Linked DNA regions of Homo sapiens. The gene in region 4 interacts genetically with the main gene of each other region. Each region holds a gene or a part of one and is shown on either strand. Other genes may lie near its edges.

Region 1 (3,500 bases), on a different chromosome or scaffold from region 4:
GCCAGGTGCCATGGCTCACACCTGTAACCCCAACACTTGGGGAGACCGAGGCTGGAGGATTGCTTGAGCCCTGGATTTTAAGACCAGCCTAGGCAACACGGTGAGACCCTGTGTCTACAAAAAATGAAAAAATTAGTTGGGCATGGTGGCACTCACCTGTGGTCCTAGCTACTTGGGGGTGCTGAGGTGGGAGGATTGCTTGAGCCTAGGAGTTTGAAGCTGGGGTGAGCCGTGATTGTGCCACTGCTCTCAAGCCTGGGCAAGAGTGAGACCCTGTCTCAAAAAAAAAAAATAAATAAAATAAAAAATGTAAAGGTGAGTGGCAGAATACCTTTGCCCCAGAAGAATTCCCTGTGGTCTGGGAAGGCCACCTGCAAACGAACAATTCCCCTTCAGTGACACGCACCCTCTGAGCGCTTTGGGGACTAGGCCCCTACCCCTTCAGCACTTTACCCATGCGGAATACATGCTTAGCTGTAGGGGCTGGGGGGCTGAGGGAGAGGGGCTGGGGGGCTGACGGAGAGGGGCTGGACCCAGCTCACCCAGTGTAGGAGGTAATACAGGTGATCTTGCCATTTTACAGATGGGGAAACTGAGGCCAGGGGAAGCATGTTCCACGGCCGAGCTGGGACTCCAAGCCAGACGGCAGAGACTAGTGGTGGGGGTTCCGTATTTGTCAACAGAACTGGGGAGATGGTGCTTCATGGGGTCTGATCCCAGGAGCTTTAAGGGACCCCTTATCCCCGCAGCCACTGTCCCCTCCTTTAAGTGCAGTTATTTCCCTTGGCGAGATGACAGGCATAAGTAATAAGAATTCTCGGGGGAGGTGGGCAGGAGGAGAGGGGCTGTGGGGACACCCAGATCTCTCAAGATTGAGTGCTGGCTGAATGTAGGAACTGATCTTTTTGGGGGGCTGGTGGGAGAAGTCCGAGTGAGGCCCTAGAGGGTCTCCCGGCTGACTTCCTTCTCAGAGGCCTGTGGCCCTTCCCTAACCTTCCTTCAGGAGGTGGGGTGTGCCCCAGGCTGTGGAAGGGCCAGGGGATCAGCACCCAGAGGCCTATGAAGGGGGAGTTCCTGGGGGTGTATAAGGCTCCCCAGGTTCCCGTGGGCCACCTTGTAGCCCAGGTCTAGCCAGCAGCCCAGTTCCCCCGCCAGCTCTCAACCCCCACCCGCCAGGCTGCCTTGACTCCAGGTCTCAAGAATGCAGAAGGCTGCTGGTAGGGGAAGTTAATTGGAAACAGGAAAACATGGCATTCCTTTCCAGGCCGCCTGGGCTTGGAAGGCAGAGGGGCTGCCATTTCCCTTCTCCCGCCCTGCAGGGGAGAGGGGTGGGGAGTATGGTTATCTTGCCCTGGTCATATTTGAGCTTTCTTCCCCGACCAGGCACCCTCACTTAGTAGAAACAAGAGCAGTCACCCGTGCCGTGTCCACGATGACAACTGCTGCCTGCTCCCCCAGCAGAAGAATTGCCCCCTCCTTACTCACCCCTTCATATCCCTCTGGTTTTTTGTCCCCTGTCTTGTCTGAGCTAGCTCCCTGGTAGGATGCACCTTATGCCACACTAGAGACGCATGGGGAGCGTTTGGTTGAGGGGTCCCCAGGGAGTGTCTCCTGGTTCCGTCCCTCGCATTCTCCTCTGCCTGGAGTACCACCAGTAGAGTTTTGTCCCAGTTGACTGAAGCTTTTGTGTCTCAGTGACACGCAAGTTTCCCCAGTGGAGAGGGAGAGTTTTCTAAGGCATTTCTAGTTTGGTGACAATTAGTTTTGTGTATGAGTGTATGTATTCATTGGGGGGAGGGGGAAAGGAGTGTTGGCACAAGCAGAGAAGGCCTTTGTTTCTTTAATTGTTCCCAATTAAACTTCCTGAGGGCCTACTGTGTGACAGGGCCCTGGGGATCAGTTAAGACCTTGGGACACAGTCCAGGAGGAGGAGAGAGAACGGTTGGATTAGCCGCTGTGGGGTTTCATTCATTCTGTCTGGGTGGTCTGAGACATCATCTTTTTCTCTGTCTGCCTTTTGTTCCTTTTGTTCTAAGTGATACACACACGGGGCAAATTCAGAACACTAAAGATGGTGTCTCTCCCTCTAACCTCTCCAGAATCCCTGGTCCCCTAGCTCTCTTCCCCAGAGACAGCACCTCCATTCTGATGTTCTGTGCATGTACTTTTATATATGGATGTTATGTGTTTAAAACTATTCAGGCCGGGCATGGTGGCTCACGCCTGTAATCCCAGCACTTTGGGAGGCTGAAGTGGGCAGATCACCTGCGGTCAGGAGTTCAAGACCAGCCTGGCCAACATGGTGAAACCCCATCTCTCCTAAAAATACAAAAATGAGCTGGGCATGGTGGTGCATGGCTGTAATCCCAGCTACTCAGGAGCCTGAGGCAGGGGAATTGCTTGAATGCAGGAGGCGGAGGTTGCGGTGAGCCGAGATTGCGGTAGCACTGCACTCCACTCCAGCCTGGGCGACACAGCGAGACTCTGTCTAAAACAAACAAACAGACAAACAAAAAACTATTCATCTTACACAGATGGTAGTCTGGTCTATGCATTGCTTTTTTTCCACGCTTCATCTCCCTGGGAGACCCTACCAATGTAGGTCTTCCTCTATCTTTTTCTTGGCTGCATGGTATTCCTCTGTGTGGGTGAATCCTCCTTTACTGTTATGGACGTGGAGGTGTTTCCAAAGGTTTCTGTGTGAAGCATGGGAAGGCATACGTCCGCACATGTTACAGGGAAATGAGTACGCCTGTGGGATAGACTCCTGGAAGTGGGATTGCTAGATCAAGGGCCAGTGATTTGTCTTTTGGTAGCTCTTACGGAGCACCTTTGATGTTGCACGTTGCATCTTTTTTTATTTTTTTGAGACAGAATCTTGCTGTGTCACCCAGGCTGGAGTGCAGTGGCGCCATCACTTTTCACTGCAGCATTATCCTTCCTGGGCTCAAGTGAGCCTCGCATCTCAGCCTCCCCAGTAGCTGGGACTACAGGTGCACGCCACCACGCCCAGGGAGTTTTAATATTTTTGGTAAAGACGAGGTCTCACTGTGTTGCCCAGGCTGGTCTTGAAATCCTGTTCAAGCACTCCTCCCGCCTTGGCCTCCCAATGTGCTGGGATTACAGGCGTGAGCCACCGTGCCCGGCCCCTCATGCTGCACCTTGAAGAAAGTTGTTCTCTTTCTCTCCTCTTCAATGTGATCCCACCTGTCGCCCAGGCAGCATCTCCAGGCTGCACGTGTCTTTGCCTCAGGTGACCTCCTTGTGTCTGATGACCTCCTTGCCTCTTCCTCCTGCTTATGGCCTGCGTCATGTGCTTGCCACCTGGTGTGGAGGTCAGGAGCGTGGGCTCTGGGCCCTGCCTGTTGGTTCTAATCCCAGTTCTGCTATTTGCTGGCTGAATGGCTGTGGACAGGGGACTTGCTTGGGGCCTTGGTTTTCCCCTCTATTAAGTGGGTTCATATCAGTACCTACTTGGTAAGGCTCTTGTGAGGGTCCCC
Region 2 (3,056 bases), on a different chromosome or scaffold from region 4:
GAAATAAATGCTAAGTCTTCTGCTTAAGGATAAGATCTGGTTCCTGTTGGTTGGCAGTGGCCACTGTTCTTGCCCATTTCACATACTTTAATCCTATTTGCAAGGTAACATCTTGGGACAGTTTCTAAGTAAAAAGAGTAAAGAAACCCAAATTTTTACTCCTAACTGGCCCATTTTGTAATCTTGGTCAAGTTAGTTAACCTCTCTCTACTTCAATTCCTCCTTCAGGAAATGGTGTGAGTAATATCAACCTTCTCCCCTTATCTAAGAAGTAATTTGAGGCCAGCTAATTAACTCTACCATATGTGATGTAATGATGGGGAAAAGAGCTATTAAAATGTGAAATATCATTACCATGGTCCAAGTCAGAGATCACTGTTGCACAAGCTACCCTCTAGTTAGGCCTTTTGAAGACCACTTTTTAACTCTTCTAAGCTGTATCTCGCTAGATGGGTGGATTGCCACCACTTATCATTTGTTAGTCTGATTTTAAACTCTAACCCACCCAAAAGTAGAACACATTCTCATTTTCATTGGATATATTTGCCTTTGAGGATTTCAGACTATTCCTTAAGGTAACCAAGGATACCTGAGGTGTAGCAAAATGACACCTGGGAATCACAGCACCTGGAAATGACTGCCTTATTGCACTTATTCAAAACCTCACCTGCAAAGGTACTAGTTAATGAGGCGGCTTCCACAGGAGCCCAATCCATAAGTAGGCAGCAGGTGGGGTACAGAAGAAAAATATGATTGACCCTCCCATTGCAAAGTGCTTTCCCTTAGAAAGTGTATGTCTCACATCTGTAAAGTTGGATATTTTATCCCCATCTTATAAAGGAAGAAATTGAGGCTCAGAGAGATTTAGTTGTTGGTCCAAAATCACGTCACCAGTAAATACATGCCAGAGCCAGGATTAGATTCCAGGACTTCTAGGATTTTACCATGTGAAAATGATAATGGACATCAGTGTATGGAAGAAGGAAGGTTAACATTATGCCCAAAATGTTCCATTCGAATTTCACATAGAATGAGAAACGTTTTTGATTTGCCATTCTAAAGATGGCCAGAATTATTGGGAAAACCATTGCCACTGCCCTTTTCCTCTCCTTATTGCTTTATAAATCAGTATCAAAGGTACTATATAAGAACCCTCAAGTTTCAAACAAAGTAGACCCTGGACATTAATGGACTGAGTATGCACAAGTATCACTGACAGCCTCTGACACGTTACAGAGGCAAGAGCTTGAATCACATGCACTGAGGTTGCTGTGTGGGACTGAATCTTTTAGCTAGTGAGGGAGGCTCACCTGGCACCCAGAATTCAAATCTATCAATGTGGTTTCTTCGTTCTCCACTCATGACCATATACCAATTCTGTGGAAGAAAAATTACACTCTAGAATATCACAAAATTTGAGCATTTCCAAGGTCATGAGACATATTTCTTACAAATATCAAGGATTCACAGTAATTGGATTTCCCTGCTTTCATTTCCCCTTAGTGGCCAGAAGCTCCAGGGAACTGTTGTTGCTCACAGTAGCAGCTAACTCATCTCAGATTCCTAATACATCTGTCCTTCTACTTGGCCTCTGACCAGCTGTTGCTTTAAAAAAAAAGTCATCTCTCATTTTAATCATTGTTTTATATGTGTTTTGATGTTGTCAATTGTCTTAAATCCTTTTTGGAAGTAGGTAACTTAAATCCTAAGTAAATGTTGGAACTAGACTTCCTAGAAAGAATTATCTTAGTCCTGGGGCCCTCCATAATGTTAGAAGTACTAAAAAGAATTAAGTTCCATCCGGACTTGGCAAAGAAAAAAAATGGAATTAAGGACGATTTTTTTTAAAAAATGATAGTTTTAAAATGTATTTATCCAAATTCTGAAACTGACAGCAGCTAGGAATATGCTTTGAGTGACACCTACTGGTTGAGAACGTCACTTCCCAACTTCCAGAGAACCCAGACCAGTGTTTCTCAAAGCTTGGCTCTAAACCAAGCTTGTCCAACCCGCCTCCAGCTTTGAATGTGACCCAACACAAATTTGTAAACTTTCTTAAAAGATTATGAGATTTATGCATGGACCTTTTTTTTTTGAGCCCATCAGCTATCGTTAGTGTATTTTATGTGTAGCCCAAGACAATTCTAATGTAGCCCAAAGAAGCCAAAAGATTGGACACCCCTGCTAGGCCACCTTTTTCAGAATGGGTGCCTGATAAAAATACAGAGGACTTCCTGGGCCCCGTGCTGCTGAAACCTCCGGGCCTGCTCCTCCCGGGGAATCTGTATTTTTCACCACCACCCTGGTGATTCCAAGGTCTACTCGAGTTGGAGACCCATTTATTCAAGGGCTGTCAAGTGAGCTGTCTATACAGGACTATCAGGCCCGAGAACACCCCCGGAAGTTAGCAGGGCCAAGGCGAAGGGATTAGGCCTGGGCTTCGCGTTGGCCTCCCCGGTCCACGGACGAGGTTCGGGGCGTGGGGGCTAAGCGGGGCGGAGGGAACCCCCAAATCCCCGGGGGCGCGGCCGCTGCCCTCTCGGCAGTGAGGGTGGGGGTGGGGGTGGGGGCGGCGGTGGCTCCGGCCCCTGAGAGCAATCGCCCCAGCTGCCTGCCCCTGTCCCCGGCGTAGAGAGGGCACGGGGACGTCCTGCGTGCGCCACTGCTAACGCCTGTGCTTCCCGTCCACAGACGAACCCGCCCCCTGGAGTTCTCCCGCTGCCGCCGCCCCAGGTCTGCCGGAAGTAGGCGTCTCCCTGGACGACGGCCTCGCTCCATTCTCTCCATCACATCCAGCCCCACCCTCCGACCCTTCCCACCAGATAAGCCCAGGCCCAACTTGGGATATCAAACGGGAACACGACGTTAGGAAACCAAAGGAGCTTTCAGCCTGCGGCCAGAAGAAGCAGCGCCTCGGGGAGCAGAGGGAGCGCTCGGCGAGTCCGCAGAGGGCCGCGCGGCCGAGGCTCGAGGAGGCGCCCGGCGGCCAGGGGCGGCCCGAGGCCGGCAGGCCCGCCTCGGAGGCCAGGGCGCCCGGGCTCGCGGCGGCAGACGCG
Region 3 (3,500 bases), on a different chromosome or scaffold from region 4:
TTTAAACATTGCACGCAAAACGCTTGTGGGCTTCATGCATTCATTCCGTGGCTATTTATTAAGTCCTTACTCTGTGCCAGACAGTGTTCAGAGCCTTAGGAAACATGCTGAGATTAAGGAAGACAAAGTGCCTGTCCTCAAGAGCTTCCATTTGATGGGGGAGGGAAGCCAACAAATGCATAAACAAGAGCGTTTTAGTTGGTGATGAGTAATTAGGAGAAAATGAAGCAGAGCAAAATATGTTGAGAGGGCCAGGTTGACACAGGAGGAACAAAGAAGAAAGGGGTTGTGGCTGAAGTAGAGTGGGTGGTGAGGGAGGGAAGTCGTCTCAGAGGAGGTGGAATTTAAGTTAGTGAGAAGGAGGCACCCACGTAATGATGAGGGGAGGAGCATTCTAAGCAGAAGGAACAGCAAGTGCAAAGGCCCTGAGGTGGGCATGTATCTGGCATGTGCAAGGAACAACAAGGAAGCCAGTGTGCCTGGAACAGAGGGAGGAAGGGAAGAGCGTGGAGGGTCAGACAGGCCAGATGGGTAGGATCACATCAGGTCTTCAGGTTATTGAGGGGAGTTCAGAATCTTAGCATCATGAGACCTTAGGCTGTTCAAATAAAAGAAGAGTGAAATGGGAGCTTCAGAAGGAACTTCAAAGTGCTACAGTCCTAAGCATCCTTGGCAAATATCCCCAGTTACCTCTTAAAAGCAGGTGATAGTCACCAGCTCCTGACTGCCCATTCTGTTTCTGGGAAGTCATAAAACGTTTTAAAAAATCATTCTATTATTGACTAGCATCCCTGCACTGGCTGCTAAGCCCCACCCCAATCTGGATCCTAATGTAAGAACCTGTGACCCAGTCCTCCCCACCCCAGAATGTTCTCTCCTACTTTGTTGAGTGGAACCTTCTGCAGTTTCGGCAGGCGCCTCAGCAACCCAGCTGTATTAGTTAGGAAATCGATTTGGCTGCTTGAAGTCGTCCAAATGTCGGTTGGGGGTCCAGGGTTGGGTGGATGCAGCATGCCATGAGCTCATGTAGGGTCCCAGGCTCCTTCTGTCTTGTTGCTCTGCCACCTCTTCCATATCACCTTTCCTGCATGGCCTAAGGAGGTGCACCCCCACATACCTGCCAGAGGATGGGGGAGGGGAAGGGGTGGGCACAGTCCTCAAGGTCACTTCCACCCACATGACTTTCCATAGAACTTGGCTACACCTATATGCAGGGGAGGCCAAGAAATGTGGTCTTCAATCTGGGCAGCCATGTGCCCAGCTAAAAATCGAGGGTTCTGTTACTAGACAGCTGCCTGGCATCTCTGCCACACTGGTTTTCTTGGGAGAAGATTCCAAATCCATCCTCTGGGATAAAAAGCAACGGAGGCAGAAACGCTGGTGGGAGCCAGCTTTGGGGTAAGGCAGGATGTGACTGCAGCTGCGGGGTGTCAGCCTGGACCTGGGGTTACATGGGGGGAGCCAAGGCCAGCCCTTGGGGACTGGAGGCTGGGTCTGCTATGACTCTGGAGAAGACAGGAAGTTAGGGGTTTTTGTGGAGTCCAGAGGCAGGTCTGTGTTTTATCATCTCTGTCCCTAGAGTTCAGGGGGCTCTTGATATCAGAGGCCACAGAGAGAGAGAGAAACTCGACTTTAGGAACACAGGGACCAGGGCATGTCCAGGGATTTTGACAGCAGGAACTAATGGGATAGTCTTTTCAGCAGCAACTATTTTCACTCCTGTGTCCTCCATACAAGAGCCATGGTCCCAGGAGAAAGTCTGATTGGCCAAGGCTGGTTTATGTGCCCACCTCCTAACCCCTAACTTAGCCAGGATAGGGCAGAGATCCTTGATTGACAGTCCAGTCAAGCCACATGCCACGTTCCCCAAAAATGGGAGGCAGATGCCGGTAGAGCCGTCACCCACTGCTGTAGGGCTGACTTATTCTGCATCCCTGTGCCTCAGATGTGCTTGTTGGAAATGGGGACCTACATCTTATGGATCCAGCTCCTCTACCTGCTTTAAGGACACATTAGTAATACAAGGGGCTCAAATCGTCTTACATCAATCAATGGCAATTGGTTGCCGAAATGTTGTTTATTTTGCCTTCTTATCAGGTTATTTCTGCTCAAAAGAGACCTTTACCAATCCCTCAGGGGATATAACAAAAAAAATTCAAAAATTCCTGTTTTATCCCAGTTTCTCAGGAATCGATTCATTCAACTTTCAGCAAATATTTTCAAGTGCCGGGCACTGTAGTAGGCTCTGGGGACAGACCCATGACCGGGAGAGACCCTGTCTCTGGACTTAGAAGGAAGTTACATTTTAATGTATAGGAGAGAGATAGACTACAAAACTCAAAAATGCACAAATAAGATAATTCAGAGTTTTTATATCATGAAGAAAATAAGGCAGGTTAACCTACCAGGGGGTGAACAGCAGATTTGGGAAATGGATAGTTTCTTTAGCTAGGGTGCAAACAGCTATGGGTGCATTTGTGTTACAAGTGTATCAGGAATTTTCAACAAGCACGGTGATATTTTTGTGTATCGGTTTCACTCACTGCCCTGTTTCCAGGGCCTAGAACAGTGCCTGGCACTGTCATCTTTAATCATATCTCTGGCTGAATGAATGATGCTCAAGGAAGGCTGCTCTGAGCTGAGACTGGAATTACAAGAAAAAGTCAATGGTTTCTAGAGCTGGAAGAAATGTTCAAGCAGAAGAAACAGTTTCAAGAGCTGGAAGAAATGTTCTAGGTGGAGGGAACAGCAAGAGCAAAGGCCCGGAGGTGGAAACAAGTTAGGAGTTTTGAAGGGAGAGACAGGAGGCCTATGTGGCCAAGGCGTGATGAGCAAATGGGACTGGAGGGGTTGGTGTGGGGGAGGGCAGCCATGGTGAGAAGATGGGATGTTAGGCTGAGCATGATGATGGTCTCCTTCTGAGCAGATGTATTAGTCCATTCTCACATTGCTATGAAGAAATACTGGGTAATTTATAAAGAAAAGAGGTTTAATTGGCTCACAGTTCTGCACTCTGTACAGGAAGAATGATGCTGTTGTCTGCTTAGCTTCCAGGGAGGCCTCAGGAAACTTACGATCATGGCGGAAGGCGAAGGGCAGCCAGCACATCTTCCATGGCGGGAGCAGGGGGTGGTGCTGCACACTTTTAAATCACCAGATTTCATGAGAACGAACTCACCATCTCAAGGACACTACCAAAAGGGATGGTGTTAAACCATTCATGAGAAGCTGCCCCCATGATCCAATCACCTCCCATCAGGCCCCACCTCCAACACGGAATTACAATTGAACATGAGATTTTGGTGGGGACACAGATCCAAACCATATCAGTGGAGAGTGACAGATTTTTGCGTTTAGGAAGGTCATTGTAGATGCAATGGTGACAAGGGGCTATAGGAGGCCAGGGAAGACCCAGGGAGACCAGGGAGGAGCTGCTAGGGGGTCCAGGTGAGAGAAGGTGGACATTTGTAATAAGGCAGGAGGCAGGAAGGGTCATGGTA
Region 4 (3,500 bases):
AACACAATTTCCCGCTCTCCACACATACTGTGTTCTTTTCACGCTCTACCCAGAAGGTCCTGCCCCCGGCTCCTTCATATGGAAAATCCATCCTCATTCTGGAAGAGCCAGGTCAGGAGTCCTTTCTCAGAGTCTTTCCTGATCCAACCAGTCAGTTGCTGCTGCTCTTTTTTTGTTTTTTTGAGACAGAGTTTTGCTCGTTGCCCAGGCTGCAGTACAATGGTGCAATCTCAGCTTACTGCAGCTTCCACCTCCTGGGTTCAAGTGATTCTCCTGTCTCAGCCTCCCGAGTAGCCGGGATTACAGGCATCCATCACCACACCCAGCTAATTTTTGCATTTTTAGTAGAGACAGGGTTTCACCATGTTGGTCAGGCTGGTCTCAAACTCCTGACCTCAGGTGATCCACCCACCCCGGCCTCCCAAAGTGCTGGGATTACAGGCATGAGCCACCGCGCCCGGCCCAGTTGCTTCTTCTATGTGATGTGCCATAGAACGTTGAATGTCTCTCAACTCACTCATCCATTCTATGACCTTGTGAATATTTACATACTGGTAAGTTTATTCCCTGTGCTAGCTGACCACGTGCTCCTGGGAAACAGAAACCATGTCTGATTCTTTCTGTGGATCCCTAGCACTTGACAGAGTAGACATTCAATAAATACTTGCTGAATGAATGCAAAACTGTGTTCTATTAACTTCAAATTTCAAATTATTCTAAGGAAAGTAAAAAGCCATATGAACAGATATATTTCATTTTCATAGAACTGGTGGTAAATTGTCAATATATGTAATAAAGTGGATAAATACAGCAGCTTGGCAGACCCTGGACACATCAACTAAATTACTGTTTCATGGGTTCCTACTGTGTGCACGGTGCTAATATAAACACAGAGGAGAAAAAGCTGCCTCATCCCTACAACTCAGAGGAGTTGGAAAGACAGTATTCAACCTAGGAAGAGCAAAATATATATCTTCATCTCCACTATCATCACTGTTATCAAGCGCTCACTGAGTTACAGGGTGAGCTGCAGTGTGAGTTCTGGAGAGATGTGGTCAAGATCTAATTCCTGACTTTATAATCATATAGAATGTTTATTATACTAAGGTCTCCTTTAATTTTTAAATAAATTCATACAACCAACCTGGTAAAATGTATACAAATGCATGTCATTTGAAATGAACCTAATGAAATGTATTAGTCAGTGAGGCTTGACAAAGCTCAGAGCATTCAGAGCTGCAAAGGGATGACTGAAACATGATGTTTAGGACACTGAGAGATGTACCCAGAGCCCCTGCTCTGATCAACTCACACGCATATTTGAAAGGACAGGACCTCCCATGATCATCATCTTTAGGAAACAAAGATTTGGTTGTGTCATGAGTCAATAACCAGGACATTACCAGGGAGCAGCTCATCTGGCTGGAGGAACAACAGTGGTCAGCAGCAGGTGGGAAGCCCATCGGGCCAGAGCACAGGTGAGACACAGGTTTGTGTATAGATACTGGCTAGGGTGATCTGTTCATGGACTTACAGGTGAATACATGGAATGCAAGGCATCAAGGGCACGAAGAAAGTAACAGAAGGCCTAGGATGGACAGACGGGAGACAGGAGTCTGCGGGGAGTGAGGGTCAGAGGACTGAATGATGCAGCTCACCAGTAACCAAAAGCGGGGCAGGGAAACAGACTGAACAGAGAAGCAAGAGGCCAGGCTCCTCGGGGTAAGTTTATTCGCCTCTGTGACACATGTAGACGACCTGTCCCTTCCTGACCTTTTCTTTTTGGAGATGGAGTCTTGCTCTGTCGCCCACGCTGAGTGCAGTGGCACAAGCTTGGCTCACGGCAACCTGTGCCTCCCAGGTTCAAGTGACTCTCAAGTGACTACCAGCGCCCGCCACCATGCCCAACTAATTTTTGCATTTTTAATAGAGATGGGGTTTCACCATATTGGTCAGGCTGGTCTTGAACTACTAACTTCAGGTGATCCACCTGCCTCAGCCTCCCGAAGTGCTGGGATTACAGGCATGGGCCGCCGCGTCTGGCCCTTCCTGAACTTTTGTACTCAATTTGCCATAGAATCACTTCATCCTAACTGCGCAGGAGCCTTGAAAGGTCACAAGGTCTGAGCATCCACCTGCTGCTTTGTCATTCATCTCATGCTAATCCTCCTCCACCTGCGTCTAAACTAAACATGGAACAGACTGCTCAGTGACTGGGTTTTCCATGACTCCAGACAGTGTCATTCTATCCTAACCTTCCAAATAAGAAAGTCTGGGTTCATCTTCAACACATCACAGCCTCTCATCATACACATGAAATCTGCAGCCATTCTGAGGTGTTATCCTTTACTGTTACTGCAGACCTTGCTCACACCTCCACCCACTTCCTACTTTGCTGTGTCTCCTTTCCCTCCCTCCCTCTTACTCTTTCCCATGTACTGTTCACTGCCACTGTCAAACATCTGTTCACATAATTTCCTGCCTGAAGGTCACCAGGTTCCCTTCTCTATGACGAATCAAGTCTAATTATAAAGTTGCATAAACTCAGGAGGCACAACCTCCACAGAGTGGAGCTGAGCACCATGCTGGCTCTGCCTTGGCATCTGTCTGAACGGGTTCCTATTCCTCAGCCTATCCCTTCTCTCCATCTGCGTTAAGCTGAACACCCTCTTTCCAATTAGACCATCTAGGTCCTCCCCACTCTAGTCTAAGTTCCGTGTATGAAGAGGCAGAAGGCATCCTTTTGACTGTCTCAGAGAAGGCTCTTAGAGGCATGTGGAATAAATACCACTCTGACCCAGCGAACACTGCCACAAGCAATGTCGTATTCCCAGAACATGCTCTCAATCTAGTTTGCCTGCCTTTCATTCTGTCATTCAAGTAACCCTTAAAAAATCTTACCTCCTCCTCAGGGCTTTTCAAGGCTAAAGTGAAGGGAGGTGCTCTCTTTCCCTTGCGGCTTTAGACACTCCTGAGACTCTCTCTTATAGGTTTACCAACACACTTAACTTTTGGTTAAATGTACATTAACCAAAAGTGTTGGGGGAAGTAAATGATTAATCTTAGCCATTTAGCTAGAGTTATTTTCAATTTATCACTGATATCTCTGTATTACATTGTCTTCTACAACCAGTGAGTCAGGGACAAAGACAGTGACACCAAACCGAGCTCAAATGTTCTCTACGAGGATGACATAACCTGTAAGGTTTCTAAGCAGTGCTCACATTCGCGATACAGGCTCTCTAGATATCTATGCCCTATGTGGAGTCAGCGCACCAAGAGTGTAGCATTTTATTTATTTATTTATTTAGAGGCAGAGTCTCACTCTGTTGCCCAGGTTGGAGTGCAGTGGTGCAATCTCAGCTCACTGCAACCCCTGCCTTCCAGGTTCAAGTGATTCTCCTGCCTCAGCCTCCCAAGTAGCTGGGACTACAGGTGCATGCCAGCACACCTTGGTTAATTTTTTTATTTTTAGTAGAGATGGGGTTTCACCATGTTGG

The links. Genes that interact genetically often act in the same process or in processes that back each other up.
Region 1: changes in SPPL3 (region 4) and BICRA together harm fitness less than expected from each alone (positive genetic interaction), as found in Homo sapiens cells (one large-scale study listed by BioGRID).
Region 2: changes in SPPL3 (region 4) and MAGI2 together harm fitness less than expected from each alone (positive genetic interaction), as found in Homo sapiens cells (one large-scale study listed by BioGRID).
Region 3: changes in SPPL3 (region 4) and SLC2A10 together harm fitness less than expected from each alone (positive genetic interaction), as found in Homo sapiens cells (one large-scale study listed by BioGRID).

What each region holds. Positions count from the first base shown.
Region 1 is NC_000019.10:47,612,134-47,615,633, forward strand, and holds part of BICRA (BRD4-interacting chromatin-remodeling complex-associated protein), read left to right. Parts: intron 1-3,500. UniProt on the Homo sapiens protein: Component of SWI/SNF chromatin remodeling subcomplex GBAF that carries out key enzymatic activities, changing chromatin structure by altering DNA-histone contacts within a nucleosome in an ATP-dependent manner.
Region 2 is NC_000007.14:78,019,612-78,022,667, reverse strand, and holds part of MAGI2 (membrane-associated guanylate kinase, WW and PDZ domain-containing protein 2), read left to right. Parts: intron 1-2,691; coding exon 2,692-3,056. UniProt on the Homo sapiens protein: Seems to act as a scaffold molecule at synaptic junctions by assembling neurotransmitter receptors and cell adhesion proteins. Plays a role in nerve growth factor (NGF)-induced recruitment of RAPGEF2 to late endosomes and neurite outgrowth.
Region 3 is NC_000020.11:46,730,149-46,733,648, forward strand, and holds part of SLC2A10 (solute carrier family 2, facilitated glucose transporter member 10), read left to right. Parts: intron 1-3,500. UniProt on the Homo sapiens protein: Facilitative glucose transporter required for the development of the cardiovascular system.
Region 4 is NC_000012.12:120,771,859-120,775,358, forward strand, and holds part of SPPL3 (signal peptide peptidase-like 3), read right to left. Parts: intron 1-3,500.